Homo sapiens: one gene and its partner. The protein of the gene in region 1 purifies or fractionates together with the protein of each later gene. This does not show direct contact. Each region holds a gene or a part of one and is shown in the gene's direction. Other genes may lie near its edges.

Evidence for each region.
Region 2: the proteins of CROCC (region 1) and SRBD1 purify together in Homo sapiens (affinity purification with mass spectrometry; one large-scale study listed by BioGRID and IntAct). This does not show direct contact.

The regions. Positions count from the first base shown.
Region 1 is NC_000001.11:16,956,277-16,960,093, forward strand, and holds part of CROCC (rootletin), read left to right. Parts: intron 1-2,306; coding exon 2,307-2,474; intron 2,475-3,817. UniProt on the Homo sapiens protein: Major structural component of the ciliary rootlet, a cytoskeletal-like structure in ciliated cells which originates from the basal body at the proximal end of a cilium and extends proximally toward the cell nucleus.
Region 2 is NC_000002.12:45,594,179-45,597,995, reverse strand, and holds part of SRBD1 (S1 RNA-binding domain-containing protein 1), read left to right. Parts: intron 1-3,817.

The DNA.
Region 1 (3,817 bases):
CCCTCTCACCTAACCTTGGTGTGAATGGATGGGCTTTGAGGAGTCCTTGAATCCCTGAAACTGTGCAAAAGTCTGCGTGCATTTGTGTGCACACTCAGGCTCACATTTCTGCAAGGAGAGGAGCTGGTGTCCTTGTCCAGTTCTCAAAGGAATCTGCAAACAACAAAAGGTACAGATTTTGTGAACTAGGTCAGAGGTTGGCAAATGGTTTTTTGTAAAGAGCCCAAATGGTCAATATTTCCAGCTTTACGGGCCACACAGTCTCTGTTGCAACTACTTGACTCTGCTGGGGTAGTGAGAAAGCAGTCCCAAACAGTGCATGAACAGAGGGGTGTGGGTTCCAGTAAAACTTTGTTTAGGGACACTGAAATGTGAATTTTCTGTCATTTTCATGTGTCAAGAAATGTTGTTCTTCCTTTAGAAATGATCCATTTTCGATGATTTAAAAATGTAAAAAAAAAAAAAAATCCTTAACTCAGACCCTTGTAGAAACGGGAGATGGGCTGAATTTGGCCTGTGAGCTGTAGTTCGCTGACCCGTGAATTCGATGATCTGCAAACTCAACAGCAGCATGTATTGAAGAAGCACCTGCTGTCTACTGGGCACTGGCCTGGACACTGTGGGTTCAGGCTTCTCACTCTAGAAGATGCAAAGAACAGGAAATGGCCTCATTCAGCCCCTAGGCGCTGCCTCACCCAGAGATATCACAACCAGGCCAGGCGCAGTGGCTCACACCTATAATCTCAGCACTTTGGGAGGCGGAGGCCAGTGGATTGCTTGAGCCCAGGAGTTCGAGACCAGCCTGGGTAACATGGTGAAAACCTGTCTCTACTAAAAATACGAAAAATTAGCCAGCTGTGATGGCTCATGCCTTTAATCTCATGCTTTGGGAGGCCAAGTTGGGAGGACTGCTTGAGCCTAGGAGTTCAAGACCAGCCCAGGCAACATAGTGAGAACCAGTCTCTACAAAAAATTTAAAAAATAGCTAGGTGTGGTGACACGCTCCTGGAGTCCCAGCTACTTGGGAGGCTGAGGTGGGAGTATCCCTTGAGCCCAGGAAGTCAAGGCTGCAGTGAGCTGTGATCGCATCACCGCACTCCAGCCTGGGCGACAAAGCAAGACCCTGACTCTAAAAAAAGTTTTTAAACTTTTAATTTTTATTTTATTTATTTATTTACTTTCTGAGATGGAGTTTCACTCTTGTTGCCCAGGCTGGAGTGCAGTGGCGCAATCTCGGCTCACTGCAACCTCCGCCTCCCGGGTTCAAGTAATTCTCCTGACTCAGCCTCCCAAGTAGCTGGGATTACAGATGCCCGCCACCACACCTGGCTAATTTTTTTGTATTTTTAGTAGAGACAGGGTTTCACCATGTGGGCCAGGCTGGTCTCGAACTCCTGATGTCAGGTGATCCACCCACCTTGGCCTCCCAAAGTGCTGGGATTACAGGCATGAGCCACGATGCCTGGCCCCCCCAAATTTTTTTAATTAAAAAAATTGTTTTTAATTACAAAAAAAGAGATCACAACTGGATAGCCAGAGATATTCTGATACTCTGATAGCCAGAGATACCACAGCCCCCTTCACCCAGGCCCCTTCCTGAGAAACCACAAGACTCCCGGAAAGGAGCTGGCATTTGCGTGCCAGCTTTTGCTGGACGCGTTGCATGCTACGGCCTCTCCTGTTACCCCTGCTGTAGCACATGGGGGAGGTAGGCAGTACCCCTCCCTGCTCCTGTGGGGAAATAGGGGCTTAGAACATTGCCGTTGTCTCAGATCGAATCCCAGTCTGGTGTGTGTGGGCTGTGTGACTTTGGGGAGGTTACTCTGACACTCTGAGGCTCAGTTTTCTCATCTGTTAGATAGGGATAATGTTACTACCTACCTCATATAGCATTGTACCAAGATTAAACGAGTTAATATAACTGAAGTGCTTAGAACAGGACTGGACACATGGTAAGCGCTCCAAAAACGTTCATCGCCATCGTAGAGGGGAAAGATAACCCAGGGAGCTGTGGTTCCTGCCTGTGAACTCCTGGTCTGCTAAGGGCTGAGCCCTCCTTCTATTATACCCACCCCTTTATGAAAGGTAGTTTTGGCCCATTGATTAAGTGGTAAACAGGCCACTGGTGCCCAAGTGCCTGGCATCGCCCAAGTTCAGTGTGGTTGTGTAGGGGCCGGCTCCCAGTGGATGTGGGGTGGTATTTGATACATGTGTCCCTACAGCAGTAGGTACCAAGTGGCCTTGGGCCAGAACTGGGAGGGTACAGGGGCAGAGCTGAACCTGCTGCCATTCCCGTGCTCTCACAGATGAAGATGCTGGACAGTGAGAACACCAGACTGGGCCGGGAGCTGGCGGAGCTGCAGGGCCGCCTGGCGCTGGGCGAGCGGGCAGAGAAGGAGAGCAGGCGGGAGACCCTGGGCCTCCGGCAGAGGCTGCTGAAGGGCGAGGCCAGCCTGGAGGTGATGCGGCAGGAGGTAACTGAGCAGGCGGGCAGGCTGGTGCATCTTTCCTTCCCCCAGCAGGAAGCAGGTGGGCACCCCAATGCTGGGGCCATTCTGAAAGGCCACTCCCTAGGGCTTGCTCCTTCCCCCACTCCTTGAGACTCTTCCCCAGTTGTAGTAACAACAACCCAAAGAACAGTGGGCCTACTGTGTGCCGGCACAAAATGGGTAGGGAGAGGCCCTGTAGATACAACCTTGTTTGATTTCCCCAGCAGCCCTATGGGGTAGGTACTGTTAGCCCTTTTTATTTAGTTATTTATTTTGAAATGGAGTCTCACTCTGTCGCCCAGGCTGGAGTGCGCTGGCACCATCTCGGCTCACTGCAACCTCCGCCTCCTGGGTTCAAGCAATTCTTCTGCCTCAGCCTCCCGAGTATCTGGGATTACAGGTGCTTGCCACCACGCCCAGCTAATTTTTTGTATTTTTAGTAGAGACAGGATTTCACCATGTTGGTCAGGCTTGTCTCAAACGCCTGACCTCAGGTGATCCACCTGCCTCGGCCTCCCAAAGTGCTGGGATTACAGGTGTGAGCCACCACACCCTTCCTACCATTAGCCCCATTTTACAGAGCCCTCAGAGAGGTCGAGGGATCTACCCAAGGTCACACAGCCACCTAAGTCTGTCTGACTCCAAAGCCCACAGGCTACCCGCTCTGCCTTTTCCGGCTGTTTCATTGCCATGAATCTGTTGTGTGGCCTGAACCAAGTCACGTCATCTCTGTGCCTCAGAGCGCTCATGAGAGATGGGCTAGCACAGCCGAGCATGTATGAAGGGCCCTGGCACAGGTCCTGGCAACCAGCTGCTCAGTAGATGGGTTTCCAGTGAAACTGGTGACCGTGAGAGGTTGACTCTCTAAATGGCAGGGGTGGCTTTGTGTCTGTGTGACCATGCATCCCATCAGGAAATGATATTTTAGTGCATGCCCCCATTGTGTGCAAATTTATTGATAAATTATGGGCAAGGGCGGCAATGTAGCCTAGTGGTTAAGGGAACAGCCTCTGGACACAGCTCCCTTTGGAACCAGTGGGCACTTAACCTTCCTGGCTGTTCACTGTGTTCTCAAGTGCAGCCCACAGCCCCCGTGTGGCCCCGTGTGGTATGCCTCCCCGCCTTTCCCCCACCCCCCAGGGCTGTGAGTACATGTGATTAATAAGCTGCTGTCAAGCTATTAAAAACAAAAAACAAAAAAAAAAACAGAAACAAAAACAGCCGGGCGCAGTGGCTCACACCTGTAATCCCAGCACTTTGGGAGGCCGAGGCTGGCAGATCACTTGAGGCCAGGAGTTCGAGAGCAGTCTGGCTAACATGGCAAAACT
Region 2 (3,817 bases), on another chromosome or scaffold:
CCATTGTTGACATAGATCCACCTCTGGTAGTTGGCAGTGTGCAGGAGGAAGTTAAGAAGTTTTAGACTGTGAAGTCTCTGGTCTTTGAGACTTGGTAATAAGTTATTCGTAGTAAAGAGCTACTTATTCTATGACTCTGCTTCCCACCCTCTGTTACAGGGAAAGAGATGTAGAAAATGGCCCTGCCTTAACCTTTTGTCTCTAGGTTACAAGTATATAAGCTCTTTATAATGAGCTTAAGTAGAAAAGAGTTTTTCACCAAGGACATAGGGACCTTTCAAAGAACAAAAGGGACAGAATGTGGTCAAGTCTCCCAAAGGACTTGAACCAGAAATTGGAAACTGTGAGGACTCAGAGAAGGTGCTGTTAGTTTTCTCTCTATCTGGTGTCTTATAATCACCAATTTCTGCTGCTTCTCTGTTTGAGTTATTATTTTCTCAGCAGATAAGATTTTCTTGCTTCTTTACAGAGGATAGAAAATGACAGCTCCCTAGTTTATTTGCCATTAGTTTTATTAGTTACGTAGACTAACCAGTTGCTTCTGTATTGCAGTTCCACATTTTTTTTTTTTTTTGTGAGACAGAGTCTCACTCTGTCGCCCAGGCTGAAGTACAGTGGCGCGATCTTGGCTCACTGCAACCTCTGCCTCCCAGGTTCAAGCGATTCTCCTGCCTCAGCCTCCTGAGTAGCTGGAACCACAGGCATGTGCCACCACGCCTGGCTAATTTTTTGTATTTTTAGTAGAGACACGGTTTCACCATGTTAGCCAGAATGGTCTCCGTCTTCTGACCTGGTGATCCGCCCACCTCTTTCTCCCAAAGTGCAGGGATTACAGGTGTAAGCCACCGCACTCAGCCTCCAGTTCCAAATTTTAAGAAGAAAGTCTGATTGGCTGAATTTGGGTCAGGTATCCATCTCTGGTCCAGTGCCTGGGGTGCTGAGGCCTCACTGTATTTTAGAAATATGGCTGCCAGGGCTGTGTGTGTGTGTGTGTGTGTGTGTGTGTGAGGGTTGTGGGTGTGGGTGTGTGTGTTAGGGTTGTGGGTGTGTGTGTGTGTGTGTGTGTTAGGGTTGTGGGGGGGTGTTCTCTGAGAAAAGGAGGGCATTTCTGGGCCAGAAGATGTCTACTTCAGGGTTCAGCTTTAGAATGTAAATTTATAAATCTAGGTGATGATTAGCCACTGTTGACAAATACTTAGGTTTCTTTTACCATAATACCTTAAGGTGTTGGTTTACAGATCTTTAATTGACAAGGGATCATAATACTTACCATTTATTTATAGATGACTTGTTATGAGCTCGGCTCTGTACTAGGCACTTTAGATTTGTTTACTACATTATCATGATGGATTAGTAGATGCAATGGGTTAACCATCAAAAAATCCTTTATGGATAGGAGTAAAATAGACAGAAAACAGTTTTGTTTGTTCAGAAAAACCATCTTAAAGTTAAAACTTACTGAGAAATTACTGAGAATTGACTCAAAGTATTTGTAGAATTTAGTTTCTAGTTTGCATCATTTCTCTAATAGGTATAACTGAAGGTGATTTCAGAGCTTTGAGAGAAGAAAATTTGTTCTGCAATCCGTTAACCTAGACTTTTAATGTTTGGTTAGGAATGAATATCTGGGTTCACTAATGCGTTCTGTAATGTCACTAAAATAGCAGCTAAACAAAGCCTTTTGGAAAATACATTCCAAGAGAAAGGCAAGATTACTTGCTGAATAGAATGAGGAGGGACAAGTGTATGATGAGCGATAGGTGCCCAGCTGCCAGAAGGTGAGTGACAAAGGAAAAGTAAAGAAAGAAAAGTTTTATTTGTAAGCTAGTAGCAGTAATGTCCTTTGTTGTGTTGTGGGAATAGTGACTTGGAAGCAAGTTGTCTCATTTAAAGGCACAAGAACTATTTTATGGCCTTTTGCCCTCTTAGAAAATATTTTGAAAATTATAGGCATGCTAGATTTTCCTTTTAATTCCAAGCAATTTTTTTTTCCTCTTCCTTTTTTGAAGTGAATGTTGACAGCTGAATGCCTATTCTCTGAGAATCTGGGCACTCCTTGCCTGTGAATTGGGAAGTGGTTTTTGGGACGCTGCCACCTTTGCTGAGCAATCTGATGGCAATTATTAAGCTCAGCATTTTCCTGGTGGGTTTAGGGAAATTGCCTGGGAAACTATTACATGTGAATTTTACATGTTTGGGTTCTTTTTATTTAACCAGTTGCAATTATCCTTCCTTAATTTTAACTTGAATTTTACAGACAATTATTGTGGTATATGTGGATTTCCTTTCCTATACTTTTAAAATTTCTCCGTAAACAGGAGAAACTTTGTCAGAGAGAAAGTAATTTTGTCTTAAAACTGTATTCCTGCTTGTAAACATGGTTGAGAACAGGGGTAGATGTTGGAAAAAGAGGGAACTGACAAGAATGAGAGTCAAGTAATACCAAGCCAGAAAATCAGAAAAGTCCTGAACATTTGGATAAGGATCAGACTCAACAAAATACCTGTAACATGCATATTATCTGCCACAAAATGTATGTCCAAATTCTTTGGGGGAAATCCTGAATAGTTATCTAGTTAGCAAGGAATGGTTGTGAAACTTAATTGTATGGAAATTATTAAGTATTACTAGTTGAACATGTGGAAATGTCATTTATATATCCTTTATTTTGTGTACTATTCCCCATGGCCTTGGCCACAATGATAACTTGGTCCTCTGTTTTTTTCCGTTCAAGGTGTATTTCTCAACTCTGAAAACTACAGATTTTTTTCAGGAACATCACTGTCTTGTTTGGAGAGGCAGAACTATATAGTCAACACTTGATTTAGTTTTAGGCTTGTCAAAAGGACAAAATTACAAGTTTAGTTTAAAGATCTCTGTTGGGTTTATGATTCTAGAATCAAGCAACACTTCATTTCATAAAATAGGATAAGTGTTCTAATGAATTAAGCAGGGGGGTTGGTTTTATAGATAGGACTAATGAAAGCAGAAACAACAGAAAGTGGATTGCTTTCCTTGTAAAGTGGAGAGAGGGAGACAGAAAAATAGAAAAATAACAGATAAAATGAAGTTACTTCAGTCTTTTTGTATAAGGATTAAAGTAGAGGGAACTTTATTATCATGCCTATTGAAGATTGAAACTGGCCTGTTTGATAAATTGGCTGTTATCATTCTTTAGATTTCTTGGAAAGTCAGATAACAACTTTGTTTTAGTTTGGTGACTAAAATTTTAGCCAGGGTGAGTTCATTTTGATTTTTAGTCTATGGAACATAGGGTCTATCGGGGCCTACTGCAGGAGCTTCATCCAAAACAATGGCTTCCTATAATGTTTTAACAGACATTATACATGAATGTATTTTGTTTCTATTTCCTGATCCGGGGTTGGGGATCACCAGGTCTTTTGACAGAAGCAACCTACTCCTTTTCAGCCCTTTCTCCCAAACTGCAAATGTGTGATTGCGACCAGAAACTAGTTTTTGTTAAAGTTATTTTGCAGATATGTTTTGGATACCATGAACTATAAGAATTTGAAGAAGTGACCAGCTACAGACAATTTTTGGGAAAATTAAACTGCTCCAAAGGTGGTTGTTGTCCAGTTTCTTTCGGGAGTGGTGAGTGTAGGGGAGTTGAGCAGCCATGTGTAATATCTTAGTAAAGTTTGCTAAACAGGGAGAAAAGGCAAACAAAACCTTTTTTATTAGCTGTTTTCCCTTTGTTGCAAGAGATTGTGTGGAATTGTGTGGAATTATGTGCGTGAAGAAAGCCATGGGATGACAAAATTGGGGAAAGAAGTGAGACAAAAAGTGGTCAACATTT